Regions from separate parts of the Homo sapiens genome. Here all the other regions are linked to region 3. The links come from fine-mapping of genetic effects on gene expression. A gene starts in region 3. Each other region holds a variant in brackets. All regions are shown on one strand. Distances are from middle to middle. Region 1 overlaps SHISA5 (shisa family member 5). Region 2 overlaps PFKFB4 (6-phosphofructo-2-kinase/fructose-2,6-biphosphatase 4). Region 3 holds the start of SHISA5 (shisa family member 5).

Evidence for each region.
Region 1: its variant is fine-mapped to the expression of SHISA5 in whole blood (TOPMed, PIP above 0.99).
Region 2: its variant is fine-mapped to the expression of SHISA5 in whole blood (TOPMed, PIP above 0.99).

What each region holds. Positions count from the first base shown.
Region 1 is chr3:48,473,752-48,483,870 of GRCh38, reverse strand. It overlaps SHISA5 (shisa family member 5), which reads left to right. Exons shown (of 6, transcript NM_016479.6): 3 at 4,614-4,694. Among named protein-coding and RNA genes, the nearest start is that of TREX1, 13 kb to the right of the region's middle. RefSeq lists enhancers at 4,350-4,399, 8,741-9,600. The variant C/A (reference allele first, on the strand shown) is at 4,652.
Region 2 is chr3:48,519,742-48,530,470 of GRCh38, reverse strand. It overlaps PFKFB4 (6-phosphofructo-2-kinase/fructose-2,6-biphosphatase 4), which reads left to right. Exons shown (of 14, transcript NM_004567.4): 10 at 4,802-4,906; 11 at 6,641-6,770; 12 at 6,872-6,934; 13 at 8,421-8,485; 14 at 10,665-10,729. The coding sequence ends at 10,724. Among named protein-coding and RNA genes, the nearest start is that of SHISA5, 21 kb to the right of the region's middle. The variant G/C (reference allele first, on the strand shown) is at 5,782.
Region 3 is chr3:48,498,830-48,509,558 of GRCh38, reverse strand. SHISA5 (shisa family member 5) reads left to right here and starts at 5,385. Exons shown (of 6, transcript NM_016479.6): 1 at 5,385-5,540; 2 at 8,266-8,422. The coding sequence starts at 5,465. RefSeq lists an enhancer at 4,300-4,853 and silencers at 5,191-5,670, 5,681-5,730.

The DNA.
Region 1 (10,119 bases), 25 kb after region 3:
GGTCAGCCCCCCGCCCGGCCAGCCGCCCTGTCCGGGAGGGAGGTGGGGGGGTCAGCCCCCCGCCCGGCCAGCCGCCCCGTCCGGGAGGGAGGTGGTGGGGTCAGCCCCCCGCCCGGCCAGCCGCCCCGTCCGGGAGGGAGGTGGGGGGGTCAGCCCCCCACCCGGCCAGCCGCCCCGTCCGGGAGGTGAGGGGCGCCTCTGCCCGGCCACCCCTACTGGGAAGTGAGGAGCCCCTCTGCCCGGCCACCACCCCGTCTGGGAGGTGTACCGAACAGCTCATTGAGAACGGGCCAAGGTGACAATGGCGGTTTTGTGGGATAGAAAAGGGGGAAAGGTGGGGAAAAGATTGAGAAATCAGATGGTTGCTGTGTCTGTGTAGAAAGAAGTAGACATGGGAGACCTTTCATTTTGTTCTATACTGAGAAAAATTCTTCTGCCTTGGGATCCTGTTGATCTATGACCTTACCCCCAACCCTGTGCTCTCTGAAACATGTGCTGTGTCCACTCAGGGTTAAATGGATTAAGGGCGGTGCAAGATGTGCTTTGTTAAACAGATGCTTGAAGGCAGCATGCTCCTTAAGAGTCATCACCACTCCCTAATCTCAAGTACCCAGGGACACAAACACTGCTGAAGGCCGCAGGGTCCTCTGCCTAGGAAAACTAGAGACCTTTGTTCACTTGTTTATCTGCTGACCTTCCCTCCACTATTGTCCTATGACTCTGCCAAATCCCCCTCTGCGAGAAACACCCAAGAATGATCAATAAAAAAAAAAAAAAAATTAGCTAGGTGGGATGGCATGTGCCTGTAGTCCCAGCTACTTGGGAGGCCGAGGTGGGAGGATCACTTGAGCCCGGGAGGTCATAGCTGCAGTGAGCTGTGATCACACCACTGCATTCCAGCCTGGGTGACAGATGAGACCCTGTGTCAAAGAGAAAAAGGCCGGGCACGGTGGCTCACACCTGTAATCCTAGAATTTTGGGAGGCCAAGATGGGTGGATCACAAGGTCAGGAGTTCGAGTCCAGCCTGACTAACATGGTGAAACCCCATCTCTACTAAAAATACAAAAATTAGCCGGGTGTGTGGCACATGCCTGTAATCCCAGCTACTCAGGAGGCTGAGGCAGGAGAATCGCTTGAACCTGGGAGGCAGAGGTTGCAGTGAGCCGAGATTGCACCACTGCACTCCAGCCTGGGCGACAAGAGACGAGACTCTGTCTCAAAAAAAAAAAAGTGAGTTTTCATTGCTAAAAATGAGGTCCTTGAAGGCAAATATAACTATTTCCCTTCCAATATAAGGGCAATATAACCACTATCATATTTGGCACAATTAACAGTAATTCACTGATAGCTTTAAATACTGTGTTCAGTTGCCTCCACTAGTTTCCAAAATGCCTTTTCACAGATGGTTTGTCCAAATCGGAATCCAAATAATGTTATTATGTTATTTTATTTATTTATTGTTTTCGAGACAGGGTCTCAGTCTGTCGCCCAGGCTGGAGTGCAGTGGCGTGATCACAGCTCACTGCAGCCTGGAACTCCTGGGCTCAAGTGATCCTCCCACCTAAGCCTCCTGAGTAGCTGGGACCACAGGTGTGTGCTATTGCACTTGGCTGCCCTCCTTTTTCGTGGTTAGTCTTGTCAGAAGTCTATTAGCTTTGGTTTGCTAATCTTCTCTATTATTCTCTATGGCTATTCTGGTTTATTTTTGCACTTACCTTTATTAATTTCTTCCTTGTTTTTTGGGTTTTCCATTACTTTTTTTTTTTTTTTTGAGACAGAGTCTTTTTTTTTTCTTTTTTGTGAGACAGAGTCTCACTCTGTCCCCCAGGCTGGAGTGCAGTGGCATGATCTCGGCTCACTGCAACCTCTGCCTCCCGGGTTCACACCATTCTCCTGCCTCAGCCTCCCGAGTAGCTGTGACTACAGGTGCCCGCCACCACGCCTGGCTAATTTTTTTTGTATTTTTAGTAGAGACAGGGTTTCACTGTGTTAGCCAGGATGGTCTCGATCTCCTGACCTTGTGATCCACCCGCCTCGGCCTCCCAAAGTGCTGGGATTATAGGCGTGAGCCACTGCACCCGGCCGAGACAGTCTTGCTCTTTTCACCCAGGCTGGAGTGCAATGGCATGATCTTGGCTCACAGCAACCTCCACCTCCCAGGTTCAAACAATTCTCCTGCCTCAGCCTCCCGAGTAGCGGATTACAGGCGGCCACCACCACACCAGGCTAATTTTTGTAGTTTTAGTAGAGATGGGGTTTCGCCACGTTGGCCAGGCTGGTCTCGAACTCCTGATCTCATGATCCGCCCTCCTCAGCCTCCCAAAGTGCTGTTATTACAGGCGTGAGCCACCAACCTGGCCACATTTTCCATTACTTTTAAAGAAATCATCTTGAGTTTATTTTATTTTATTTTATTTTATTTTATTTTTTTGAGACAGAGTCTCGGTCCATTGCCAAGGCTGGAGTGCAGTGGCACGATCTTGGCTCACTGCAACCTCCACCTCCCGGGTTCAAGCAGTTCTCTGCCTCAGCCTCCCGAGTAGCTGGGATTACAGGCGCCTGCCACCACACCCAGCTAATTTTTTGTATTTTTAGTAGAGACAGGGTTTCACCATCTTGGCCAGGCTGGTCTTGTACTCCTGACCTCATGATCCACCCACCTTGGCCTCCCAAAATGCTGGGATTACAGGCGTGAGCCACCACGCCCAGCTCATCTTGAGTTTAATATCATCTTATTTATTTATTTATTTATTTATTTATTCTTATTATTTTTCAAGATGGAGTCTCGCTCTTGTCGCCCAGGCTGGATTGCAATGGTGTGATCTCGGCTCACTGCCGCCTGCACCACCTGGGTCGAAGCAATTCTCCTCCCTCAGACTCCAGAGTAGCTGGGATTACAGGTGCCCGCCACCACGCCTGGCTAATTTTTGTATTTTTAATAGAGACGGGGTTTTACCATATTGGCCAGGCTGGTCTCGAACTCCTGACCTCAGTTGATCTGCCTGCCTCGATCTCTCAAAGCACTGGGATTACAGGCATGAGTCACTTCCCCTGGCCCATATCATTTATTTTTAACCATTCCTGTTTTCTGATAAATTATTATTATTTTTGACATTTGAGTCTTGCTCTGTCACTTAGGCTTGAGTGCAGTGACGTGATCTGAGCTTACTGCAACCTCCGCCTCCTGGGTTCAAGCGATTCTCCTGCCTCAGCCTCCCGAGTAACTGGGATTACAGGTGCATGCCACTGAGCCCGGCTAATTTTTGTATTTTTAGTAGAGATGGGGTTTCACCATCCTGGACAGGCTAGTCTCAAACTCCTGACCTTGAGATCCACCCTCCTCGGCCCCCCCATTTCTTGATAAATTCTATTAAAGATACAAATCTCCCTCTAAGAACTATTTTATCTGTGTTTCACGAATTTTGATGTATTTTCATCATTTAGTTCTACATACTTGTTAGTTTCCTTTATTACTTCTTCGTGATCATGATATCTTCTCCCCTGCCAGGTAAGTATCCTTTATGAGTTCTTATTTAACACAATACAAATCAAGAGTTTTGGTTTTATTTTGCTTTTTTTTTTTTGTACCTTCTTAGTTTCCCAAGGTAGGAGTTTTTTGTTGTTGTTGTTGTTGTTGTTTTAGTACTTTTTAAAAAAACTCTGTGGAGGCCAGGCGTGGTGGCTCACGCCTGTAATCCCAGCACTTTGGGAGGCCAAGGCAGGTGGATCACGAGGTCAGGAGATCGAGACCATCCTGGCTAACACGGTGAAACCTTGTCTCTACTAAAAATACAAAAAATTAGCCGGGCGTAGTTGTGGGCGCCTGTAGACCCAGCTACTCGGGAGGCTGAGGCAGGAGAACGGTGTGAAGCCGGGAGGCGGAGCTTGCAGTGAGCCGAGATCGCGCCACCGCACTCCAGCCTGGGCGAGAGAGCAAGACTCTGTCTCAAAAAAAAAAAAAAAACTTTGTGGAAATGTAGGCCAGGTGTGGTGGCTAACGCCTGTAATCCCAGCACTTTGGGAGGCCAAGGCGGGCAGATCACGAGGTCAGGAGTTCGAGACCAGCCTGGCCAATATGGTGAAACACTGTCTCTACTAAAAATACAAAAATTAGCTGCGCATGGTGGCGGGTGCCTGTAATCCCAGCTACCCAGGAGGGTGAGGCAGGAGAATCGCTTGAACCTGGGAGGCGGAGGTTGCAGTGAGCCAAGATCGTGCCTCTGCACTCCAGCCTAGGTGACAGAGGAAGACTCCATCTCAAAAACAAAAAAAAATTATAATAAACTTTGTGGCAATGTGGTTACTGATTTGTAACTTCATCCTGTTGTGGTCAGAGAAGATCCTTTGTATGGTATCTGTCTTCTAAAATCTGCTGAGACTTGTTTTGTGGCCTAACATATGTTCTCTCCTGGAGACAGTCTGGTGGACACCTGAGAGGATGTGTGGCTTTGTGCTATGAGATCCCGGTGTGGGCAGAGTCCACCTCTGGAAGGCCATTGAAGCCACCGGTTCATAGTAGCTTCTGTGCACGTTTTGTGGTGCCCTAAGGTAGTGTTTGTGCTGGCGCTCGGTGGGGCTTCATTGTGCTAATCACAAGGTTTCCTGTTTGCAGCGTGCCTGCCAGTGTAGAGCCGGTGGAGCAGCTGGGCT[C/A]GGCGCTGAGGTTTCGCCCTGGCTACAACGACCCCATGTCAGGGTAAGTAAAGCCTGCTGGCTGGGTGCATCTTCCTGGCAAAGGTGACAAGAGGGCTCAGGGGGGCCAGTGTGCATCTGGGGGACTGGGATGATTCGGTCATTGGGGTGGAGCCCAAGAAACTGTCACCATATCTGACCACTAGGACACTTGCTCCTTATGCTGTGAAGGTGTCTTCATTAGTGTGCTGGGGTGGTGGGGACGTGGGTGACTGTGGTCGGGGGTTGACAATTGAAGGGCCAGGGGTCCGGGGTACATTGACCTAGATGCTGGGTTGAGTCAGCAGATGACTGATGGGTCCCGATGGGGGCAGGAGTGACAGAGAAGGGGCTGTAGTGGGCATGCGATGATGGTAGATGGGGGCGGGTATATTGTGATTGGGCATTGGTGACAATGGTGATGGTGATGGGGTGATGGTGGTGCTGGCAAGCACATGGTATTGGGGTGATAACGGTGGGGAGAGGTCCTGGGACAACCAATGATGCCACAGTTCCTGTGTGAAGCTTTGTGGGTCATGGTTACTGTGTCAGGACTCTCCTCTCAGGGAACCAAGGAGCAACCCCAGCCCCCAAACCCCAGTCCCCTTGGCTGGGCTCCGGCCTGTGTTATTGCCACCGTAACAGGAGTTGTGACATCTTCCTGGAGGTGGAATGGGTGTGCAGCCACTAGGGCGGGCTTTCCTGCCTGGGTCTGTTCCACTTGCTGTCTCCCCTCTTCCCTGGTGGATCTAGAAGCCGCTTAAAGAAAAGGTCTGCCCAGGAGGGCAGGGTTTCCCCTTTGGAGGAAGAGACCTTGGGCTCTGGGCCTGAGTGGGGGGCTTGGGTTCTTGTTTTGCCCCATCCCATCCTGTAGGCCCAGGCAGGTGTGGGGCCTCACTGGCTACAGCAGAATCAGGGCAGGGCTCCTGTGCGTGGAGGAGGGGAAGAAGTGCAGCTGTGCCCCTCCTCAACACCTCAGGGCTGGTTGGAGCCTGAGATCTCTACAGGCCTTCCCCTCCACGTCCAGGAGCCCAGGAGCGGCTGTCCTGCCCTGAGGCCCAGGATTGTGGGCTTTCAGATGGCCCCGTGGGAGATGCCTATGCCCAGCCTGTGTGGGCCTGGAGGCAGTCAAGGAGTGGGCCTCGTCCTGAGGACAGTGGGCATCACAGAGGGTTCTGGGAGCGCTGGGGACCGAATGGAGTTTTAGGAAGACCACACTGGCTGCTCTGTGGAAGATGGAAAGAGCAGATGGGGTGGGTGTGGGAGGTGGGAAGTCGTTTCTGTAGGAGGTGGCCTCAGGCGGCTTCCTGGCCAGAGGCGCTGGAGGCCAGAGAGAGCCAGAGAGAGCCAGAGCTTGGTGGCAAGAGGTGAGGATGGAGACTTACATTCAGCAGCTCCCACAAGGCAGGGTGTGGAGGGAGTGGGAAGGAGCAGGGGCTGGACACTGGAGGAGGGCAGGCTTGTGGTGAAGTGCGCTGTGGAATGGAGATTTCACACCACGGAGTCCATGGCACCCTGGGCAAGAGCGAGGCAGTGGAGCAGATTGAAGAGCAGTTGGAAATTGTATGCTGGTCGCAGGCAACTCCTTGGAGAGTTTTAGCCGTGAATGGATGAGGAGTAAGACAGGCATTGAAGCTGGGCACAGTGCCACACTTCTGTAGTCCCAGCTACTTGGGAGGCTGAGGCAGGAGGATCGCTGTAGGCCGGGAGTTCAGGGCTACAGTGAGGTATGATCCTGCCTGGGAATAATCCCTGCACTCCAGCCTGGGCGACCCCGTGTTTTTTGTTTTTTGTTTTTAAAAGGGAGGCCGGGCGTGGTGGCTAATGCTTATAATCCCAGCACTTTGGGAGGCTGAGGTGGACAGATCACCTGAGGCCAGGAGTTCAAGACCAGCCTGGCCAACATGGTGAAACCCTGTCTCTACTAAAAATAACAAAAATTAGCTGGGCGTGTTGGCGGGTGCCTGTAATTCCAGCTACTCTGTAGGCTGAGGCAGGAGAATCACTTGAACCCAGGAGGCAGAGGTTGCAACAACAAAAAAAAGGAGTTGGAGAATCCATGTGAAGGGTTGTTCTGTTTCTTTTTTTTTTTTTTTTCTCAATGTTATAGATTTGAGCTGGGACAACAAGGAGGAGACAGTGCGGAACAAGCTCCCAGAGGGGCATAGGAGGAGGAGTGGCTTCCTGGGGTTGTGGCAGCAGGGAGGTGACTGGGGCCAGCTCAGAGGCACCTCTGACTCCCCAAGGTGTGCATGTGGGACCTGTTCTGTTAGCCCAGCTGCCGCCGTGGTGTGCATAGCACTGGGCCTCGTGTGCCGTGTGCTTGGCGTGCCCTGCTGCCTCCTGCCCCAGGCTATTTTGCCCATGCATCGAGAAGAGCAGGTGACTGGAGTGATGCTCCCCCTCCCGCGCCTCATGTCATCTCTTGTCCTCTGCTTTGTTCTGAGCCCCAGCTCATGCCTAGGACCTGCTTTATAAAGGTGCAGGAGCCAAAGAAGTGGGTGCTGGGAGGAGGGGAGGGGGACAGGGTCATCAATGACTCCTCTCTTTTGAACTCTCTCAGGTGGCTGCCTGTCTGGGTCCCAAGGAGACATCCTCTGCTGGGCATCCATGTGCTGCCTACTTGGCCAAGGGCACTGTTTGTCCACTGGAGAGTTGGCTCCATGTTGAGGGCCTGGCCCCTGCTGTCGAGGCCATGGCCAGGAGCTCAGGAGAAGCCAGGCAGGGGAAAGACCCCAGGCCAGGAGCCCCACCCCAGCTCTGCCCCACTCTCTGCCACTGACCCCTCCTCCTCTCCTTATTTTGGGACCCTTGCCTCTGGCTATCTCCCTCTGGGCTACTTTTTTTTTTTTTTTTTTTTGAGATGGAGTTTCTCTCCTGTTGCCCAGGCTGGAGTGCAGTGGCACAATCTCTGCTCACTGCAACCTCCGCCTCCTGGGTTCAAGCAATTCTCCTGCCTCAGCTTCCTGAGTAGCTGGGATTACAGGTGCCGGCCACCATGCCCGGCTAATTTTTGTATTTTTAGTAGAGATGGGGTTTCACCATGTTGGCCAGACTGGTCTCGAGCTCCTGACCTTGTGATCTGCCCGCCTCAGCCTCCCAAAATGCTGGGATTACAGGCTGAGCCACTGTGCCCGACCTGGGCTACTTTTTGAGTTCCCTAGGCATGAGGCAGCAGGCTGGAGCCTGGATCCAGATGGGCCCACATCTGCCTGGCCCAGAACCCCTGCCGCAGGAGGATGCCACCCATGGCAGGGGTTATAGTGTGGCCCTATTTGTGGGCTCAGGGTTGGCCCAGGTCTTCTGCCCCCTAGACTTTGGCAAGTGAATCTCTGTTTAATGGTGAGTGGCTCCAGCCATTCTTGCCTTATTCACTCCCCAGATAGTCTCCTGGTTGTTTTGGATCCTACTGTCATGTCCTCTTCCCAGCTCCTTGCACTCACAGGACTGTCGGGCAAGACTGTTGGGTTTCTAAGTACCGAATGGCAGAAGCTCTGGCTGCAGACCCCAAGGAGGCCACCACTGACCCTCTGCTGTGACTCCACTGCCACAGTGCAGGGGAAAGGGAGAGAGGCCCATTAGGCGAGGTGTGGCCACAGCCCCGGTGCTACCTCCCAGCCCTCAAAGCGTCCTTTCTGTGGTTCTCAGGCCCTCAAGCCTGTCTGGGGCCTTGCTGACACCAGGGTGGGGGTGCGGGTATCCCAGGTCCAGAGCCAGCCTGTTCACTGTCTAAGGTTTGGAGTCTTCCATTTCTTGGAGGCCGCCGAGTTCTCCCCAGACCCTACAATCCTGCCCAAACTCCCTGCCGGGGTGGCTGCCCCTCTGCCTTCTGCTCCCTCCTGCTTGGGCCGACTCTGCCTTTTGAGCTTGGCCCCAGCCTTGGGAGACCCCATTCCTTCCTCTCGGAGGCGTAGTTCCATTGGTACTGTAGCCACGTGTGGCCTTGTACCCTAGCCCCGCTCTGCAACCACCCCTTGAATGTTGCTTGGTTTTCTAAGGTCACCGTGCCTGGGTGGGGTCTCTGAGTGAATTTATTCATTTACCTGTCCAATATTTATTGATTAATTCACAACATTATGCAAAAATTTTTTTTTTATTGAGCACTCACTATATGCTAGGCACTGGAAATATAGTGGTGGCCGAAAGCTGTATTGGATGATAATGGTACAAAGCAGGGGCAAGACGTAGTTGATCAAATGCTCACACACAACAGAGTGTGTGTTTATGAACTGAAGTAGAAAGGAATTTAATTCCGTGCGGGCATGTGCTGAGGGGCCTGGCCTCTTCTGCATGGTGGGGAGGGTGCTCCTGGGGAAGTGACCTGAGGCCTGAGGGGTGAGCAGGAATGAGTTAGGTGTGGCTGAGATGAAAGGAGGAAAGGGCTGAGCTGGCAGGAGTATCTGCATGTGCAAAGGCCTTGAGCAGGACACAGCATGGTGCTTTCAAAGCTGAAAGGAGGGGGATGGGACTCAGCACAGAGGTTGAAGGAGAGGGGGCAGTTCCAGACCACACATGGCTTTGTGGGCCTAATAGGGAGTTTTATTTTATTTAAAATTTTAATTAAAGGCCAGGCACGGTGGCTCAGGCCTGTAATCCCAGCACTTTGGGAGGCCAAGGTGGGCAGATCACCTGAGGTCGGGAGTTCGAGACCAGCCTGGCCAACGTGGTGAAACCCCATCTCTACTAAAAATACACAAATTAGCCAGGTGTGGTGGCACGCACCTGTAGTCCCAGCTTCTCGGGAGGCTGAGGCACGAGAATCACTTGAACCCGGGGAGGCGGAGGCTGCAGTGGGCTGAGATTGCACCATTGCACTCCAGCCTGGGTGACAGAGAAAGACTCTGTCTCAAAAAAAAAAAAATTAAATTAAAAAATAAAATTTTAATTAAAGATTAAAAATTAGCCTGGGCAACACAGTGAGACCCTGTCTCTACAAAAAATAAAAAAATAGCCGAGTGTGGTGGTGCATGCCTGTGGTTCCAGCTACTTGGGGGACTGAGGTGGGAGGATCACTTGAGCCTGGGAGTTTGAGGCTGCAGTGAGCTGTGATCGTGCCACTGCACTCCAGCCTGGGCAACAGAGTGAGACCCTGCCTCAAAAAAATAATAATAATAAAATTTCCTTTATTGTAAATTTCACTGTCTGGTGAGACAAATCCCAGATTTTTCTTTTCTTCCTCTTCTTTTTTTTTTTTTTTTTGAGACAGATTCTCACTCAGTCTCCCAGGCTGGAGAAAGCCTCCTGAGTAGCTGGGATTACAGGTGCGTGCCACCAAGCCTGGCTAATTTTTGTATTTTTTGGTAGGTAAAGAAGGAGTTTTGCCATGTTGCCCAGGCTGGTCTCGAACTCCTGGGCTCAAGCTTCCCAAAAGCCTCGGCCTCCCAAAGTGCTGGGATTGCAGGTGTGAGCCACTGCACATGGCCTCTTTTCTTCTTTTATTGTCAACTATA
Region 2 (10,729 bases), 21 kb before region 3:
GCTTTTCAAAGACATTCTCAGGCTGGATGCACATAATTGAAATATACTTAACAAAGCTCATACTGTCACAGGAAAATAATTTTTGACCTTCTGTTGGGAAAGATGATGTTGTATTATTGCCATTCATTTCCTTTTTGCTCTGTTTTTTCGATGTAATTGGGCAGAGTACAGCATCATGGTTTTATTTTATTTTATTTTTATTTATTTATTTATTTTTTGAGACCAAATCTCACTCTGTTTCCCAGGCTGGAGTGTAGTGGTGCAATCTCAGCTCACTGTAACCTCTACCTCCCGGGTTTAAGTGATTCTCGTGCCTCAGCCTCCCGAGTAGCTGGGACTACAGTTGTGAGACACCATGCCTGGCTAATTTTTGTATTTTTAGTAGAGACAGGGTTTCACCATGTTGGCCAGGCTGGTCTTGAACTCTTGACCTCAGGTGATCCACCCGCCTTGGCCTCCCAAAGTGCTGGGATTACAGGTATGAGCCACTATGCCTGGCCTATTTTATTTTATTTTTGAAACAGGGTCTGGCTCTGTCACCCAGGCTGGAGCGCAGTAGCACCATCTCAGCTCACTGCAACCTCCGCCTCCTGGACTCAAGCCATCTTCCCACCTCAGCCTCCTGAGTAGCTGGGACCACAGGTGTGCAACACTACGCCTGGCTAATTTTTGTATTTTCTGTAAAGATGGGGCTTCACCATATTGCCCAGGCTGGTTTCAAACTCCTGAACTCAAGTTGTGGTTTTATTTTTTATCTATTCTTTCTCTTCAGAATTGATAATCTCTTTCAAAAAAGTAAGCAATTTTTATAACTCATTTTGTAGCTCATTTAACCCATTTTGTGCTTGGTGGGGGTTATCCAGCCACTGATTTCTTTCTCACACAAACAGCAGCTACCTGAGGCAGGTTATAGGACAGTGTCTTCCCTCCAAATATATAGATTTGATGCTAACATTCAGTTTTGCAGAGAAGCCTGCAGCCACCCCAGTTTTTTTCCTTTGAAGTTAATCTGATTATTTTCCAAGATGCTTGTGGATTTCCTTCATCTTTCAAGTTTTGAAACTATTACAGTTTTTATGATCCATTAATCATCTTTCCATGTTTATCTTCTGATAAACAGCCTTGGGCTTGTCTTCTATTCCAACATTATGACTTTTTCTTAGTTTAATCCACAATTTATTGCCTTATAGTTCCTTTAAAAAAATGATAGCTTTATTGAGATATAATTCATATACCATAGAATTCACCCATTTAAAATATACAGTTCAGGCCATTTGTGGTGGCGCACACCTGTAATCCCAGCTACTCGGGGGGCTGAGGCAGGAGAATCACTTGAACCCAGGAGGTGGAGGTTGCAGTGAGCTGAGATCGTGCCATTACACTCCAGCCTTGGAGACAAGGCGAGACTCAGTCTCTAAAAAAATAAATAAATAAATAAATAAATAAATAAGTATACAGTTCAGTGGTTTTTAGTGTGTTCAGAGTTGTGCAACCATCACCACAATCAGTTTTAGAACATTTCATCACCCCAGATAGAAATCCTGTGCCCATCAACAGTCACTTCCCATTTCCCTCTAACCCTTCCTTCTGCCTTAAGCTACCACTAATGTTTTCAAGGTTTATTCGTGTAGCATGTAGCAGTATTTCATTCCTTTACATTGCCAAATAACATCCTATTATATAAATATACCACACATTATGTATCCATTCATCAGTTGATGGGCATTTGAGTTGTTGCCACTTTTGGGCTATGTGGATAATGCTGCTGTGAACATTCATGTCCAAGGTGTTTTCTATGTTTGTTTGTTTGAGACAGGGTCTTGCTTTGTTGCCCAGGCTGAGTGCAGTAGCACGATCTTAGCTCACTGCAGCCTCCATCTCCTGGGCTCAAGCAATCCTCCCACCTCTGTCTCCCAAGTAGCTGGGACTACAGGAACTCGCCACCACACCCAGCTAATTTTTGTATTTGTTTGTAGAGATGGGGTTTCATCATGTTGCCCAGGCTGGTCTCAAACTCCTGGGCTCAAGAGATCTACCTGCCTTGGCCTCCCAAAGTGCTGGGATTACAGACATGAGCCACCGCATCCGGCATAAGTTTTTGTGCGGACTTATATTTTTATTTCTCCTCACTGTACGCTAGGAGTAGAATTGCTGGGTCATATGGTAATTATACATTCAACCTTTTCAGAAACTGCCACACTGTTTCGCCATCTCACATTCCCTCCCGCAGTGTGTGAGGGCTCTGATTTCTCCACATACCCGCCTGCGCTTGTTACCATCAGTCTTGGTTGTAGCCGTCCAACATGGGAACTCAGTTTAGCCACATTCTCTGCCACTTTATAACATGGATTACCTTTTCTCTAGGGTCCAGGAAAAGGTACCTCATTTCCCCTTGTGGGCTCACAGAGGCACCTTTAATGTTCATATTTCTATCAACGTTCTTTTCATGATGATATATGTGCTCTTTACGATGGTGGAAGCTGGCCGGGCGTAGTGGCTCATGACTGTAATCCCAGCACTTTGGGAGGCCGAGATGGGCAGATCACATGAGGCCAGGAGTTCGAGACCAGCCTGGTCAACATGGCGAAACCCCGTCTCTACTAAAAATACAAAAAATTAGCCAGCCATGGTGGCCTGTGCCTGTAATCCCAGCTACTCAGGAGGCTGAGGCAGGAGAATTGTTTAAACATGGGAGGCAGAGGTTGCAGTGAGCTGAGATTGCACCACTGCACTCCAGCCTGGGCAACAGAGTGAGACCCTGTCTCAAAAAAAAAAAAAAAAAAAAAGATGATGGACGCTTTCTCTGTCATCCTCTTCACTTCCTTCTGTGCCTTCACCAGAATAATCTTTAATGTCTAAATTTCTACTAACAGTCTCTTCAAGACAGTCTAAGCTTTTTATCATGCACCACAAAATTCTTCCAGCCTCTACCCACTATCCCATTTCATAACCACTTCCACATTTTTAGTTCTTTATTACAGCAGCCAGCAGCACTTCACCTCCTGGTACCAAAATATGTGTTAGTATTCAAGTGTGGTGGCGCACACCTGTAGTCCCAGCTACTTGGGAGGCTGAGGTGGGAGGATCACCTGAGCCTGGGAAGTTTGAGGCTGCAGTGAGCCAAGATCACACCACTGGACTCCAGCCTGTGTGACAGAGTAAGACTGTCTCAAAAAAAAAAAAAAAACCACTAAATGTTAAAAAAAAAAAAAGTATTAGTTTACTAGGGCTGCCGTAACAAAGCACTACAGGTGAGTGGCTTAAAACAACATGAATTGATTCTCTCACAGTTCTGGAGGCTAGAAGTCTGAAATCAAGGCGTCAGCGGGGCCATGCTCCCTCTGAAGGTGCTAATAAAGAACGCTTCCTCACCTCTTCCTAGTTTCCAGTTGTTGCTGGTAATCCTTGGTATTTCTTGGCTCATAGCCTCATCACTCCAATCCCACCTCTGTCCACGGTCATCACATGGCTTTCTTCCCTATGTATGTCTGTCTGTGCCTTCACATGACATTCTTTTTTTTTTTTTTTTTGAGATGGAGTCTCGCTCTGTCACCCAGGCTGGAGTGCAGTGGCATGATCTCAGCTCCCTGCAATCTCTGCCTCCCGGGTTCAAGAGATTCTTCTGCCTCAGCCTCCCAAGTAGCTGGGACTACAGGCGTGAGCCACCACGCCTGGCTAATTTTTGTATTTTTTTAGTAGAGACGGGGTTTCACCATATTGGCCAGGCTGGTCTCAAACTCCTGACCTCATGATCCACCTGCCTCAGCCTCCCAAAGTGCTGGGATTACAGGCATGAGCCACTGTGCCCGGCCTACATGGCGTTCTTAAAAGGACACCAATGACTGGATTTAGGACCCACTCTAATCCAATATGTCCCCATCTTTTTTTTTTTTTTTTTGAGACAGAGTCTCATTCTCTTCCCCAGGCTGGAGTGCAGTGGCGTAATCTTGGCTCACTGCAATCTCCACCTCTTGGGTACATGCGATTCTCCTGCTTCAGCCTCCTGAGTAGCTGGGACTACAGGCGTGCGCCACCACGCCCAACTAATTTTTGTATTTTTAGTAGAGACGGGGATTCATCATGTTGACCATGCTGGCCTTGAACTCCTGATCTCAGGTGATCCACCTGCCTCAGCCTCCCAAAGTGCTGGGATTACAGGCTGTGAGCTGTGAGCCACCACGCCCAGCCAACTTTTCTTTTTTTTTCTTTTCTTTTGAGAGGGAGTCTCTCTCTGTTGCCCAGGCTGGAGTGCAGTGGCACAATCTCAGCCCACTGCAACCACTGCCTCCTCCACCATGTTGGCCAGGCTGGTCTTGAACTCCTGACCTCAAGTGATCCGCCTGCCTCAGCCTCCCAAAGTGCTGGGATTACAGGCGTGAGCCATCGCGCCCAGCCAGCTTTTTTTTTTTAATGGCATTTGTAGAAGATGATCTATGCTCTGTGTGTGTGTGTGTATCCCAAATAACACAAGTGAAGTTTTCCTTCATAGTTTGCATAACAACCTACACTCACAAGTACTATTTCCACAGCACAGAAAAGAAAAAACACATAGCATCTCTGTGTGTATTGGATGGGTGATGGATAGGTGGACAAGACCATCCTGGTAGCTTTTTACAAGCAAGGAACCACCAATGATCAGTGTTCCTAGAGGTCCTCCCCTCCTTAGACAGGTTTCTGTTCCCTTCACCCAGGAAATGCCCGTGAACTTGGTCTCTTCTGCTTGATGCTGCCTCACCCCACATGTCCCCAAGGCTCATCTTCTGGGCCTGTAGGAGGTGTGATGACTGTGGTATCTCCCTAGGGCGTCTGTGAGGAAATGACCTACGAGGAAATTCAGGATAATTATCCACTGGAGTTCGCCCTGCGGGACCAGGACAAGTACCGGTACCGGTACCCTAAAGGGGAGGTAGGTGGGATTTGGGGCTTAGTCCCAGCCACCTACTGCCCGCCTGGGAGTACCACCTGTGGCTGAGGGCCTGTGGGGCTCTGCAGGGGCTGCGTGGGTAGCAGAAGGGGCCTGGTCTCAGAGGCCTGCCAGCCTGGGTGTGTGGTTCATCTCCACCCCTTCCCAGCTATGCAGCCCAGGCCTTAGTCCCTTCCTCAGGTGTGGAGTGGGCAGTGCCATGTAGGGCAGGCCTTCAACCTGGAGACCTTTGGCTCCCTGCTCTCCATTCTTGTCTTTCCCCTTCCCAGGGGTGGAGAATTCGGAAGGGCAGGGCCTGAGGTGGGGGATCTGCGGAGTTAGGCTTTCCTGGGACCCCTGTAGACAGTGTGCGGTCCCCTGGCATTCCCAGGCCAGCTCCTTTCCCAGCGAGTTGTCAGCCCTTTCCGGGGCGCTCAAATGGCTGGGGAGTTGGGGAGACCATGGCAGGCCTGGGACTCGGGTCTCAGCTCACTCGAGTCCCTGTCTCGGGCCTCATCCTTCCTTTGGATGCTTCCTCTTGTCACAGGCTGAGCCCATCCTGTCCTTCCTGTGGCTCCAGGCACCACCCCCAGCCCTGGCACCAGACCCAGGGAGACCTTCCACACATGAGTTGGCTACCACAAGCCACTGCACTTGTCACCTTCTCTGACACAGTTCAGCCCAGGCCCCAGGTCAGAAACTGAGGGTCACCTTTGACTGAGGCATCTCCTTCCACTTCCAGGAGGTGGCCTGGGGCAGGGGCCAAATAAAAATACACCCCGTCAACACACATATGTACACATATATATACACATGTAGAAGCACCTCCACCCAGAAGCCAGGCTGACAGGTCTCTACACTGTACCATCCTCAGGATA[G/C]TATAGCTCTTGGGAACATTAATTATTCCCCACATTATGTTAGGCCAAGTTCAGATTTAGAACCAACCCAGATAACGGTCAGGAGAAACAAAGCAGCTGGCTGCTCAAACATGAGAATACAGTGAGGAGAATTGGTTGAGAAATTCATGTTACCAAAAGAACCGGTCTAGGATTTTCTCAGAACTACCAGGAACTGGCACAAATCAGCGTGTCATTTTTGCTTCCTAATCAAAGCTTGGGGCACGTTCAGTTCTGACTGCTGGAGGCCATTTTTGAAGGACCACTCATTGTGTGCAGAAGGATGAAACTGATGAAAATCTCTAAACCTGCCAGGTTGAGAGGCCCAGCAGGGGCCTAAACCGTACATCACGGCAGGCATAGGGGGAAGATACTGGGCAGGTAGACTGAGGATAGTTCCTGGGGACCCCAGCTGTTTCTGATGAGTCACACTCCAGAAAGTTCCAGGTCTTTGCTCTCTTCCCCTTCGCTCTTGTCAGTGCACTCTGTTTGCTGTGGGCTGGAAGCAGGCGAGGTCTTCTCCACCAGTCACATGAATTCTATAGCTGAGGATTCAGTGCAGAGCCCCATGGGTGGGCACTGAGGTGGACCCTGGGATGGAGCCTGAGGCCTAGCTCTGCGCTCTCAATCCTACCAGGACCTAGCCCTGAGGTGGGAAAGGTGGCCCCTTTCCTCAGCTGCCCACCCCCATGGCCTCAGAAGGCTAGGCTGGAGGAGGCCCAGCCACAGCTTCCCAGAATGGTGAGTAGCTGCAGGAGTGGAAGGTGGCCCAGTGTCCAGGATGTGTCTGTCCCTCCCCCGGAGCCAGGCCTGAGGGACCCCTCTCTGCTTGCCCTTGCAGTCCTACGAGGACCTGGTCCAGAGACTGGAGCCTGTCATCATGGAGCTGGAGAGGCAAGAGAATGTGCTGGTCATCTGCCACCAGGCTGTGATGCGCTGCCTGCTGGCCTACTTCCTCGACAAGGCAGCAGGTGTGGGCTGTGCCCCGGGGGAGGTGGGAAGGTTGTGTGAGAAGGTAGGCACTGTCACCAGGCATTTCTGGTGTGCTAGCCATCCCCCTCTGTGTCTACAGAACAGCTGCCCTACCTCAAGTGTCCGCTGCACACAGTCCTGAAGCTGACTCCTGTGGCATATGGTAAGGAAGCTTCCTGCACATTGACCATGGGTAGCCATGACCTTGGATCTCTGCACAGTTCCATGATTTTCTCCGAATTCCTTGAAAATTGTGTTAGGAGCCCATTCCTCCACCTACTACCCCACCACCTTTCCCAATTTGCTTTTTTTCTTTGAGACGGAGTCTCGCTTTGTCACCCAGGCTGGAGTGCAATGGCGTGATCTAGGCTCACTACAACCTCCACCTCCCGGGTTCAGATGATTCTCTTGCCTCTGCCTCCCGAGTAGCTAGGATTACAGGCGCCTGCCACCATGCCCAGCTAATTTTTGTATTTTTAGTAGAGACAGAGTGTCACCATGTTGTCAGGCTGGTCTCGAACTCCTGACCTTAGGTGATCTACCTGCCTCGGCCTCCCAAAGTGCTGGGATTACAGGCGTGAGCTACCATCATGAGCTACCATCTGCGGCCCTAATTTGCTTTTAAAAAGTTTGTTCTGGGGCTGGGTGCGGTGGCTCATGCCTGTAATCCCAGCACTTTGGGAGGCCGAGGTGGGTGGATCACGAGGTCAAGAGATAGAGACCCTCCTGGCTAACATGGTGAAACCCCATCTCTACTAAAAATACAAAAAAATTAGCTGGGCGTAGTGGCGGGCACCTGTAGTCCCAGCTACTTGGGAGGCTGAGGCAGGAGAATGGCATGAACCCGGGAGGCGGAACTTGCAGTGAGCCGAGATCGCACCACTGCACTCCAGCCTGGGCGACAGAGCGAGACCCTGTCTCAAAAAAAAAAAAAAAGTTTGTTGTGAAAAAGTTTATGTGGCCACAGAAGACCTCCCCAGTGACTTTGCTTAACCATTGCCTACCTGCATGAGGGGCTTTTCTACTGATTTTTCTGAACCCCCACAAGGCCCCTTGGTCCTCAGGGCCTGGACTTTATTCTGGGTGCAGGGCAGTGTGAGTCCCCACCCTGCCTCTTGCTATACCAGCAGAGACTTCAGGCAACTTCTTCATCTCTCAGGTCTTAGCTCTTCACCTTTAACACAGGTGCTCTTGGGGGAATGGCTGTGAAGCCCAGTGGCAGCTGATGTCACTCCAGTGTGTGACAATGGCCTCATCCCCCATTGCACTGTGCACCTGGCACACGGTTGACTGGGCCTTATATGGTAGAGTTGGAATGTGGGTGGTTTGGGGGCCCTGAAGACTTTGAGAGTCAGTAACCTCAACTTAGGCCTGCTGTTCCCCCGATCCCTCTCGGTCCTGGGGTTGGGGAGCCTGGGGCCTCTGTGTGGCCCTGTCTGGGCCGTCACATAGATATGCGTGGGTCTGACAGCGTGTCTCATCCTTCCTCCCGGGGCTCCCCAGAGCTGCCTAAAGTGGAAGAACTAGAGTGAGGCTGAGATGGCTGCTCCATTCCACACGCCCAGACCCCCCTCCAAGAGAAGTTTCTAGCATCTGCAGCTCAGCTGCCTTTCAGGAGTGGGGATGGATTTGCATCTTCCCTTTGGCAGGTTGTAAAGTGGAGTCCATATTCCTGAACGTGGCTGCTGTGAACACGCACCGGGACAGGCCTCAGGTAGCAATGGGGTCACTGCTGGGGTAGCGGGGTGTTCCTGATGTGGGGGTGTCCAGACTGCACATCCTCCAGGGCCAGGCCCAGCTGCGGCACCTGCCAGAGGGAGCTTGAGTCTTCTGCCAAGACTGTTGTCCCATCAGCAGGGCGGGGCCCTGGCTCTGGGTGGGGCCTGCATCAGGCCTTCCCAAGGCACCTGCCCTGGGGATGGGGAAATCCCTGACTCTGGGCCACCAGGCTCAGGAGTGCCTGAACTTGGGTGTGGTTGGAGCCCCAGGACTTGAGGAGCCACAGGGCTCCCAAGCAGCAACTTGGAGGTCTAAGTCAAGGGGGCCCTTGGGCTCAGTGAGAATGAGGCTGGAGGCTAAGAATGAGGCTTCTGGCCTTCTGAGGGCAGGTGGGCACTCTTCCCACTCCCCATCCCTGCAGCCGAGGCCTCATGAGCCCCTTTCCTAACCCCAGCACCTTTAAAAATTAAAATGGGATCATGTACTTTTGGGGAAAGGGCCATGCAGATACTGAAGGGGCCTCAGCATGGGGTGGAGACCTTGGTCCAGAAAAGCAGTCACCACCTGTGCTCCCCAAGTGCCTTGTGGAAGGTAGAAGCTCCTCAGAGTGTAGCTCAGAACCACTCTTAGTCCCATGTGGGGTCCCTCCACAATGTTGGCTCCCTCTCCCACTGGGGCCAAGGATAGGACCTACACTTCTGGGAGCCCCGGTCCCAGTTCCTGGAGGCCACTGCACGGAGAAGGCTCTTGGGCCTCAGTCATGCCTCTTGCCATCCATGATGGGGCCTGCTTGGGCTCTGGGTCCCTGCTGAGGATGCACGTCTTGGGCTGGACCAGGACATCTGGCCTTGGACCTCACAGCACAGGTGTGTAGATGTGTCCTGTCCCTTCCCAACACCACTGCCCCCAAGCAGGACCAGTTACCCTGCAGGCCTCTCTTCCCATTGCTCTGATAGTTCGTGCATGTCTTGGCCAAGTTCAGCCCAGGCCCAATTTGGTACCCACAAGTCACAGGGGAACGTACCTCCCAACGGGCATCCTTTGGGCCAAGGAAGGCCCAGATGGCACTGGGCCCCCAGCGCTGACAGAGTGATGGTAAGAGAGGCCCCTGGGTTGGCAGGGTGATGGTAAGAGAGGTCCCTGGGCCTGGCAGCCCTTGGGAGCTGACCCTACCAGTCCATCACCATAGTGTGGCTGGCGGTCATTCTGCCCACTATGGGTGGGTGCTTCTGAGAGGCAAACCGCTACTAACCCCAGGTTCCTGGATGGCTCCCTTCTGGCCCATCCATTGGGGCAGGCTGTGGTGGAAAAGGGGCGCCTCAGGAAGCCTGCCCAGCAGTAAGAATTATACCTGCCCCTACAATTCCAGGGGCCGGTCCTATGAGCCCAGGCTGTGGGCCATGGGGGCCATGTCTCTCTCCCTGAAGATCTGGGCATGTCATGTTGCATGGGGCAGCAGCTCAGGTCATCAGTGACCTGCTCCTGCAGGTGATGGTTCCGGGGCCCACAGCTGGGAGGAGGGGCCACCAGGCTCTGGGGCACATAAGACAGCCTCAGAGAGCTAAGGGAAGTTTCAGATTCCCTATTCCTCAGGCCTGAGACTCCCTGAGCCCGACAGGCCAAGGATGGGACTGAGCTCTGCAGTTTGGTGGGGTCCTTCTATAGCTGAGGGCTTCAGGAGGCCCTGTACCCCAGTTCTGAGGGGACAGACCAGGCTGCAGACCAGGAAATGCCCATAGGCTTCTGGGGCACCTCTGACACCTGCGTGCCAACACTTTAAACTAGGAAGGAGGCACCCCCAGGAGTTGAACCCCTTCCCTGCCCCACAGATGAGGATAAAATCCCCAAGCCAGGGGTTCCTCCTCAATTGACTCAGCCCTGAGATAGGAGGTGGGAGTGGCCTTGCTTTGGGTATTGCCTGACCTGGCTGCAGTGGAGCAGGAAACGAGGTGGCATCCTCCACCGCACCTTTGTTCTATTGTCCATCCACCCGCTATGTGGCACGAAGCTCTTGGCCATGTATTCTTAGGGAAGCTTGTGGTCTAGAGTCTTGCGGCTGTGGCTGCTACAGTGAGAATGTGAAGCCTGATGAACCACAGTGATGAGGACGGCAGACAGCAGGCATCTCATCTATTCCTGCCATGGAGTGAACGCTCTGTGTTTTTATTGTACAGAACGTGGACATCTCAAGACCTCCAGAGGAAGCCCTTGTCACGGTGCCTGCTCACCAGTGACCATG
Region 3 (10,729 bases):
CCAGGCTGGAGTGCAATGGTGCGATCTTGCCTCACCGCAACCTCCGCCTCCCGGGTTCAGGTGATTCTCCTGCCTCAGCCTCCGGAGTAGCTGGGATTACAGGCATGCACCTCCACGCCTGGCTAATTTTTTGCATTTTTAGTAGAGATAGGATTTCTCCATGGCTTGTCTTGAACTGCCAACCTCAGGTGACCCGCCTGCCTCTGCCTCCCAAAGTGCTGGGATTACAGGCGTGAGCCACTGGGCCTGGCAACTTATTTGGTCTTTCAGGCCAATATCGTGAAGCTATCTAGTGGCCCTCTGCTAGGAGTCATCTCATTTGCATCAGAAGGATGGTAAATTCTAAGGGGTTAAGGAGTTCTGTGTGAGGAATGGAGAACTAAAACTAAATATTTAGTTTTTTATCATGCAACACCACCAGCAGTGACTTTACCAGCTCGGTCTCCTCTGCCTGCCACAAGTTGCCAGAGCCCTTTCCTTCCTCAGGCCTGGACTTCCACTGCTTTTAGCTCCAACCAGGCAGATGACAAGTCGGACACCCCCATTTCCCTGGGCATCTGCTACCATTCCTGATGGGGACTAATTTTTTAAAAAAAATTATTTATTTTTTATTTCTCTCTTTCTCTCTGTCTCCCCTTTTTTTATTTTTTTATTTTTTGACAGAGTCTTACTCTGTTACCCAGGCTGGAGTGCAGTGGCACGATCTTGGCTCACTGCAACCTCCACCTCCCAGATTCAGGTGATTCTCATGCCTCAGCCTCCCCAGTAGCTGGGATTACAGGCATGCACCACCACACCCAGCTAATTTTTGTATTTTTAGTAGAGACGGGGTTTCGCCATGTTGGCTAGACTGGTCTGGAACTCCTGACCTCAAGTGATCTGTCCGTTTCAGCCCCCCAAAGTGCTGGGATTACAGGCGTGAGTCACAACGCCCAGCCTAGTTTTCTCTTTTTTTTTTTTTTTTTTTGAAGCAGTCTCGCTCTGTTACCCAGGCTGGAGTGCAGTGGTGCGATCTCGGCTCACTGCAACCTCCGCCTCCTTGGTTCAAGTGATTCTCCCACCTCAGCCTCCTGAGCAGCTGGGATTATAGGTGCACGCCACCACGCCTGGCTAATTTTTTTTGTATGTTTAGTAGAGATGGAGTTTCGCCATGTTGGCCAGGCTAGTCTTGAACTCCTGACCTCAGGTTATCCACCCGCCTCGGCCTCCCAAAGTGCTGGGATTACAGGCTTGAGCCACCTTGTCCAGATGTTTTCTTTTTTTTTTTAGGTTTTTTTTTTTTGAGACAGAGTCTTGCTCTGTTGCCCAGTCTGGAGTGCAGTAGTGCAATCTTAGCTCACTGTAACCTCTGCCTCCTGGGCTCAAGCAATCCTCCCTTGTAGCTGGGAATACAGGCACGCATCACCATGCCCAGCTAATTTTTGTATTTTTTGTAGAGACGGGGTTTTGTCATGTTGCCCAGGCTAGTCTCAAACTCCGCGCTCAAGAGGTATCTGCCTACCTCTGCCTCCCAAAGTGCTGGTATTACAGGCATGAGTCACCACGGTGCCCGGCCCTGGTGAGAACTTCTCTGTCAGTTGGAGGAAACTGACTCTGCCCAACTTAATCAGAAACCCAATTTATGAAAAGCAACTGTGGAGCCCTCAGAGCCAACAAGGCGGCTGGAAAGAAAGGTTCCAAGTCGAAGCAGTATCGTCTCCAGCCCAAACCACAGTGCTACTTTGGCCTGGTGAGCATGCCACTGCTCCTGCCACGAGGGGGAAGCAGGGGCCTTTGTGACTCACACAGCCCTCCCCACAGGTGCAGACTCATGTTTCTGCCAGGACTGCTGCAGCCCTCCATCAAAGCTGGTGGCCAGTACCCCTGACTGACTCCAGGGAGGCTACATCTGATTGGTTGGGGCTGGGCAAAAGCTCTTGCCCTGGGGCAAAGGAATCTGAAAAAGATAATATCTAGCGTGTTCCTCCTCTGATGTGGAGGAAAGGGGACCAGGTGCTGAATGAAGAAGAATGGCAAGGATCCTTGAGCAAGCGTTCCACTGTAGAACTCACCGATCTGGTCCTGCAGTCAGTCCTGGGGCTGGGCTGATGGCCTCATTCTCACCTGGTTACTCTCACCCTGGGCTTTACAAGCATCAGTGGGTGTTGCTTTGCTCCACCAGCCTGATGCAGAGTTCTCACCTACAAACTGTAACCAAGGTCCCAGCAGAACACAGTCATTCTTAACAAACTGGGTATTTGAGGAGAGTTTGATAAAAGTGCTGTTGCACTTTGGGAGGCTGAGGCGGGCAGATTGCTTGAGCCCAGGAGTTCGAGACCAGCCTGGGAAACATGGCAAAAACCCTACTTCTACAAAAAATACAAAAATTAGCTGGGCGTGGTGGTGTGCATCTGTGGTCCCAGTTACTCCAAAGGTTGAGGTGGGAGGATCACCCCAGTTTCCTGGGGAAATTGGGGCCGCAGTGAGCCGTGACTGCACTCCAGCCTGGGTGACAGTGAGACCTTGTCTCAAAAAAAAAAAAAAAAATTGCTGTTTACAGAGCTGTAGGAAGGTTTGGGGAGCCACCTAGCTTTGGTACAGCATCTGGGCCAAGTCCTAGCCTTGGTACAGCATCTGGGCCAAGTTTGGTTTCTGCCTTGGAGGGGTCACTTTCCCCAGGCAACTTGTATTTCCAGGCTTTGCAAGCCTGAGCTGCAGAGACAAAACTCCTCAGACACCGAGTTAAAGAAGGAAGGGGTTTATTTGGCCGGGGGCATCGGCAAGACTCCTGTCTCAAGAGCAGAGTCCCCCGAGTGAGCAATTCCTGTCCCTTTTAAGAGGGTGCTCGTGAGAGGGTCGTGATCGATTGAGCAAGCAGGGGGTACGTGACTGGGGGCTGCATGCACCAGTAATTAGGTCAGAACAAAACAGGATAGGGATTTTCACAGTGCTTTTCTATACAATGTCTGTAATCTATAGATAACATAACTGATTAGGTCAGGGGTCGATCTTTAACTACCAGACCCAGGGTGTGGCGCCGGGCTGTCTGCTTGTGGATTTCATTTCTGCCTTTTAGTTTTTACTTTTTCTTTCTTTGGAGGCAGAAATGGGGCATAAGACAATATGAGGGGTGGTCTCCTCCCTTAGACCCACAGAAAATGCCTGCACACATGGGCACATGCCTGTGAGATGCATGGTTGCGATTTCCAAGCCACTGGGGTGATCCTAGCCTCCACTCACTCCTGCCCATGCACAGCCCTGGGTGGAGCCCAAAACACCCACCAAGCTCAACCATGAGCTGTGGGCAGATAAGAGGGTATGGGAGAGCCAAAGACCAAAAAAGTAGGGAGGAAGAGGCCAGGTGAGAGGCCCCTAAAGGATCTGGGGTTGGGGGCAGCAGAGTAGAGAAGCCAAAGGCAAGCATAGGAGGTGGGAAAGGACAATTCTTTTTTTTTTCATTTTTTTTTTTCGAGATGGAGTCTTGCTCTGTCACCCAGGTTGGAGTGCAATGGCGCGATCTTGGCTCACCACAACCTCTGCCTCCCGAGTTCAAGCGATTCTCCTGCCTCAGCCTCCTGAGTGGCTGGTATTACAGGCATGCACCACCACACCTGGCTAATTTTGTATTTTTAGTAGAGACGGGGCTCTACTGAACATGGAGATGTTGGTCCATGTCTATCCAACATGGAGATGTTGGTCAGGCTGGTCTCAAACTCCCAACCTCAGGTGATCTGCCTGCCTCTGCCTCCCAAAGTGCTGGGATTACAGGTGTGAGCCACTGCACCAGGCCTTGTTTTTCTATTTTTGAGACAGGGTCTTGCTCTGTTGCCCAGACTGGAGTGCAGTGGCACAATCATAACTGCAACCTTCATCTCCTGGGCTCAAATGATCCTCCCACCTCAGCCTCCCAAGTAGCTGAGACCACAGGTGCTTGCTACCATACCCAGCTAATTTTAAAATTTTCTGTAGATATGGGGTCTCCTTATGTTGCCCAGGCTTAGAACAACTCTTAGGAGCTTGGCTGGGGGGCAGGGACTGGAAAACCAAGGAACAAGAAACCAAGCTTGTGGATGGTGCAGAGTGGAATGAGCAACCTTTAGGGAGGCAGAGGGCTGGGCACCCAGGGTGTGGAACACAGGATGGCTCTAGAGCTGGACATGAGGAGCATACACTGGCCATTCTGCAGAAGGGGGACCTAGGCTGCACCCAGCTTTGGAGAGTGGCGCTCAGGAGGCAGAGGTGGGATAACCAGGCTGGGCTGTCAGGGAGGATGTGACTCCAGTCCCTCACTAAGACCCTCCCAGAGGGCATCCTGCCTGGGAACTGTCATATCCCTGCCCCCCACATGTGTATTGAGCACGGTGAGTCTTAAGCCCTTCTTGGCCAGGAGGTGATGGGGGCTTATTGGAGACCCAGGCCTTCCTCTCCCTGTTCTAACACCCTAGCCTGGGAAACTACTGGGAACATCCCAGATTGTCCCCTTGGGTTTCTCTTTGTCCACAGCGATGCCCCCACCTTTAGGTGAGAAATATATGGTGGCACACAGGGTGCACAACCCAGCCTGGGTGCCCCACTAGTGTGACATTTCACGTTTTCTGTCTTGAGTGAAATGTTCTGATTGTGCTAGGTGCAGAGTGGGGGTGGGTCAGGAACTCTGGGCATAAAAGGAAGAATGACTCAACATCCCTGATTCTGCCTGGACCCCTGCCCCGAAGTGAGGGGGCGGAGCCCTGTGTGGGAAGTTGGCCTGGCTGTGTGCCCTGGGAGCTGCCAGTTTCTAGCTCAGTCCTGGCCCACTGCGCCAGCGCTGAGCCTGCCAGGGCTGGGGCTGGGGATCACCTTGGGATGATGGTGTCAGTCCCAGGGGGCAGGAGATCGAGTGTCCTCTGAGCTGGCGACTGGGCCTGTAGAAGGGAACCGGCATTTGTGGAGTGTCTACTGAGTGCCAAGGTCTGCGCTGGGCACTGTCCTCGCACCGCCTCACCTAGTCCTCACGTAGCCCTCGGGCAAGTGAGGATCCGCCGGGACTGCGGCTGGGAGGGATGGCTGTGGCTGTCCCCCAGCCCACACAGTAGGCGCTCAGTGTCAGGGTGCATATTCCCGGGGACGCCCTCCAGGCCTGAGAGCTGGGGGCCGCCGCCGCCCCCCATGCATCCGGTGAGCAGAAGGAAACTCCGTGCGTCGCCCGGCGCCTGTCCGAGTCTGGGAACCGGTACCAAGTTTTCGCGCAGACCCCGGGCGCGAAGCTGGCCCCGAGGCTGGGAAGTCGTCCGCTTCCTTCCTTCCTCCTCCTTCCACCTTCCTCCCTCCTCCCTCCTCCCTCCTCCTCCCTCCTCCTCCTCCTGCTCCCCCGGACAGAGGTTCCGGGAACCAGCCGGGCCGGGGCGGGGCGGGGCGAGGGAGAGGGGCGGCCGCGCGGATCACTGAGGCTGTGGCGGCACTGCGCCCGGCGCTCGCGTCCGTCCGCCCGTCCGCCCGCCCAGCCATGACTGCGCCGGTCCCCGCGCCGCGGATCCTGTTGCCGTTGCTGTTGCTGCTGCTGCTAACGCCGCCTCCGGGTGGTGAGCCGGGGGTGGGGGCGGCCCGTCCTGCCCTGGGACCGGGCAGACACTTCCCCGCGCTGCCTCTCCAACGAGCCGGGCAGCACCAGCCCCACTATGCCCCCCACTGACCCCTGATTGCCCCGAGGCCGTCAGCGAACCCCCACGACTGCGGACCCCTCCTCCACCCCAGCACCCTCCTTGCCTGAACAACCCTGCCTAGACACCAGGCAGCTGCCACCTTTGTCTGTCCTGGAACGGTGGGGAGGGGTCTGCCCTCCCGCCCATGTTCCAGGGGATGGAGTCCCCAGAGGCTAGGGTAGGGTTCCCTGCCTGGCTTTAGTCTGGCGGGTGGCTGCAGGGCGAGCTGGCCCCTCCATCAGAGGCCTTCCCTCTTTGCCTCTGTTTAATGTCTGGGAGCCCCCACCGCTGCCTCCGTTGGCCCTTGTGTTCCTGTAGAGCCCGGCGCTGAGGCTGGCCTCTGGGGTGGAGACACCACTGTGTGTGTTGGTTGCAGATAGGTGATTCACAGAGTCTGGAAGGCTGGCTGGGGGCGGGTCCTTTAAAGGGTTAGGAATTGGAACAATCCCCTGCCCACCCATGGGAAGCCAAAGACCCTTTTGGGGTGGGTGGCTTCGTGGAGGGGAAGGCTGTATTTCCTGGGGGCTGGGATGAATCCAGAGGACCTGGGCTAGAGAAATGAGAAAGGGGAGACTTGTGCCCAGAATCCGCCCACTCCTGGAGTGAGCCTGTAGGAGGGTCGGTCACTGATTCAGTGAGGTCTGGGGGTCAGAGAGCATTTGTGCCATGGACTCAGCCTAAACAGCCTCACCGGTGTGTCTTCAGCCCTAGCTCAGAGGCTCAGATTGGGCTGTGAAGACCTTGCTGCATATGGGTTCACCTGAGCCACCAGGCACGGGCCATGCTGATGATACCAGCTTTCAGGTGGGCAGCTGGCCAAACTGGGCTTGTCAATGGTCCAATCCTCTGCTCCATGGCTTTGCCCAGAGCAGGGTTCTGCCTGGAGCTGCCAAGAAGTGCAGTTCCCCCCAACTCCCCACTAAAGTTCCCTCTTCCCAAGGAGGTCACTTGGTGTCTCTGTCTCTGGGCTTCACTCTACTGACAGCCTCGGGGTGTGTGGTGTCCTGATCAGGCCCGGGCACCAGATGCTGCACATGGCCAGGTGCCTGGCCTGGCTGGGTCTCCAGAGGCCACGTGCTATGGCAGACTGTTTCCAGGCCGATGTAGTTATGCCTCAGGGCTATCATCAGACCTGTCCCCTGCCTACTGCGGACTTGTGGGCCTTGCTGGACTAGGTATTCTCTTTGGAGTCTGCCCTGGCAGAATCCGGTACTGTTCCTTCCTGTTAGTGGGCACAGGTCTCTGCTAATGTAGCCTGAGGATACATGGGAACATTTGACTGTAGCATCTTCCTGGAGGTTTGTAAACCTTGTGGTCATCCAAAAACCTGGGTTATTTTCCACATTTGTTGTCAGCCAGATCCCCTCAGCATGACCTCGTTTATTGAGACTTGTAAGGATGTCAGTAGATCCCAACTCTGTGCTGAGAGTCTTGTGATGGCTCCAGGGCTACAGATGGTGCCACTGCCTTGGAGCCCTGTTGCCCAGGCTGGTCTCAAACTCCTGGAAGGCACAGACATTTCCTGGACACCTGCTGCAGGCCCAGCGCGGGGCTAAGTGCTTTATGAACGCTGGTATGGTGGGTGTGACAATTTCTGACCAGGATCTAGCCTGCCATCATGGTTATGGGGTGGTCTGTGAGAGCCAGGCCCCTGCAGTTGTGGTGCCCAGCAGGGGCTGAGGTTGCTGTGGTTGAGTGAGGGAGAGAGTGAACGAGGATTAAGAACTAGACAGTCTGGCTGGGGTGCGGTGGCTCATGCCTGTAATTTCAGCACTTTGGAGGCCAAGATGGGTGGATCACCTGAGGTCAGGAGTTCAAGACCAGCCTGGCCAACATGGCGAAACTCTGTCTGTACTAAAAAATACAAAAAATTAGCTGGGCCTGGTGGCAGGCACCTGTAATCCCAGCTACTCGGGAAGCTGAGGCAGGAAAATTGCTTGGATCTGGGAGGCAGAGATTGCAGTGAGCTGAGATCGCACCACTGCACTCCAGCCTGGGCAACAGAGTGAGACTCTGTCTCAAAAAAAAAAAAAAAAAAGAAAGAAAGGGACAGTCCAGTGTCTGGTCCCCTGCAGGTGTTGAGCTGTGTGACTTCTCGCCTGGGCAGCTTCTGGAGGAGGCCACCTGGAGTAGGGCCTTGAAGGATGAGTAGAGTTGAAAGGCAGGAGATAGGAACCAGGCAAGAATGTGAGCGGAGTGTGGACAGGTTGGAGAGCTGGAGTGATCTTCAGGACTCTGCAGTTTAGACCCTGCTTGGAAACTCGGGCCTTGATCCTGAAGCAGTGGGAATTAGGGGAGGTTTGAGAGCAGGGTGTGGCCCCATCAGACTCACATTGAGAAAGTTCACCCTCCTATCAGGAGGCCAGTGCACTGGTGAGGGAGAGAGGGAGCCCAGTTAGGGCAGCTCTGTTGTGGCCCGTGGGATAGGGCAAGGCTGAGGGGGAGCAGTGGCCAGGGGTCAGAAGGTGGCCTGTGGCTAGGGTGGCTCAGAGACGGTGCAGCATGTGTGTGTGTGTGTGGTCTGGTGGCTGTGCCAGGGAGGGCGCTGTGTCTGCTGGGGCCTGGCCCGTGGGCACAGGTGAACAGATGTGTTTCTCCTCTCCAGCACGTGGTGAGGTGTGTATGGCTTCCCGTGGACTCAGCCTCTTCCCCGAGTCCTGTCCAGATTTCTGCTGTGGTACCTGTGATGACCAATACTGCTGCTCTGACGTGCTGAAGAAATTTGTGTGGAGCGAGGAAAGGTGTGCTGTGCCTGAGGCCAGGTGGGTGCACCAGTGGGTCACAGGGTGGGTGGCTTGAGCCTGTGCCCCACAGGAGAGTATGTGGAAGAGAGATAGCTCTGCCCCTCTGGCCTCTCAGCCCTCTCAAGATGGTGGCCAGAGCATTGGAGCAGAGGGTTTAGGGATCCCCTGTTCTGGGCTGGACCCCCTAGACCTGCTCAGTTAGTCCCCTGTCCATCTCCTCCCTACCCTGAGGGCTCCAGCTTGCTGAGCCTTGGGCTGAGCAGGTTTCTTAGAGGTCCTTGGCCTCAGCTGGTCCTGTGACTCACCCCGGGTGTGTACCTGTGCCAAGATGTCCTCAGGGTGGGTACTTGGGCTTGACTATACCCCACAGTATGCGCATGCCCCTGAGGGGTATCCTTTGTTCAGAACCCGCTTGTGGAGCCTGTAGGGTGCAGTGCGTAAGCATGTGCCCCAGTGTGAGCTCTATCTGTGTCCTCCCAGCGCAGCCTATGAATTTACCTGCATGTTGGGTGTAGACTGTTTCATGGCTGGGACCAAGGTTCCAGGCCCCTGTGTGTGGCTCTTTGCCGTATTCTGTATTTCCTTTGTGTTTGGCCTCGGTGTAGAGGGTTGAGATGGTCATACTCCTCTGCTCATGGCAGGTGATCATCCTGGGTCTGGGCAAGACCAACCCCCGCTATCTTACATATTTATTTTTGTGAGATGGAGTCTCACCATGTTGCCCAGGCTGGTCTCATACTCCTGGGCTCAAGCCATCCTCCTCCCTCAGCCTCCTGAGTAGCTGGAACTATAGGTGTGCACCACCATGCCTGGCCTATATATTTACTTTAATATGTCAGGACCATTTCATTCCTTTCCCACCCCACAGGCAACCGTCTGCTATGGTCTGCTATGTATAAGGTACATCCTTTTCATTATTTGAGTTCTTGCAAAGTCGGTGTAGTGTAAGACCTAGCCACATTGCTGTGGCACATCTGGCCCTTGCCCACTACTGCTGTGTCCCTCTGAATGGTGTGAATCCACAATGGTTGTCATGATAGATAGCTTCAGTGGGCATCTGGTATACCTCCTTTTATGGAGCTGTGTAAGAATTCTCTTGGAAACACATCTGGTTGTGGAGTTGCCATGTCATAGATGCACACAGTTATCCACTAAGGACTTCCAGGTGCTCTTGGGAGTGGTGCACAGGGCTGCACACCTGTCAGTCCTGCCTGAGGGTTCCTGACAGGTCTTCTTCTACCCTTTCACCCTTTCACTTCACCTTTTGGCTTTTTTTTTTTTTTTTTTTTTGAGACGGAGTCTCACTTCTGTTGCCCAGGTTGGAGTGCAATAATGTGATCTCGGCTCACCGCAACCTCCGCCTCCCGGGTTCAAGCAATTCTCCTGCCTCAGCCTCCCGAGTAGCTGGGATTATAGGCGTGCACCACCACACCTGGCTAATTTTTGTATTTTTGTATTTTTTTTTTTTTAGACAGAGTCTCGCTCTGTCACCCAGGCTGCAGGCTGGAATGTGGTGGTGCGATCTTGGCTCACTGCAAGCTCCGCCTCCCAGGTTCACGCCATTCTCCTACCTCAGCCTCCCAAGTAGCTGGAACTACAGGCGCCCGCCACCACGCCCGGCCTAATTTTTGTATTTTTACTAGAGATGGGGTTTCACCATGTTCACCAAGCTGGTCTTGAACTCCTGACCTCAGGTGATCTGCCCATCTTGGCCTGCCAAAGTGCTGGGATAACAGGCATGAGCCACCGCGCCTGATGGTATTTCTTTTTTTAAAAGCAGGAGCATTTATTCCATTTAAATTTAATGTAGAGGGCCGGGGGTTGCTGTGGCTCATGCCTGTAAGCCCAGTACTTTGGGAAGCTGAGGTAGGAGGATCACTTGAACCTAGCAGGTTGAGACTGCAGTAAGTCGTGATTGGTGCCACTGCACTCCAGCCTGGGCAACAGAGTGAGACCTCGACTCAAAAATAAATTAATTAATTAATTTAATGTAGTTATTGATATTCTGGGGTTATATTTGCATCTTTTGTGCTATTTGTCTCTCCTGCATTATCTTTTTTTTTTTTTTTTTTGAGATGGAGTTTCGTTCTTGTTGCCCAGGCTGGAGTGCAATGGTGTGTTCTTGGCTCACCACAACCTCCACCTCCTGAGTTCAAACAATTCTCCTGCCTCAGCCTCCTGAGTAGCTGGGATTACAGGCATGTGCCACCACGCCCGGCTAATTTTGTATTTTTTAGTAGAGACAGGGTTTCACCGTGTTGGCCAGGCTGGTCTTGAACTCCCGACCTCAGGTGATCCTCCTGCCTCGGCCTCCCAAAGTGCTGG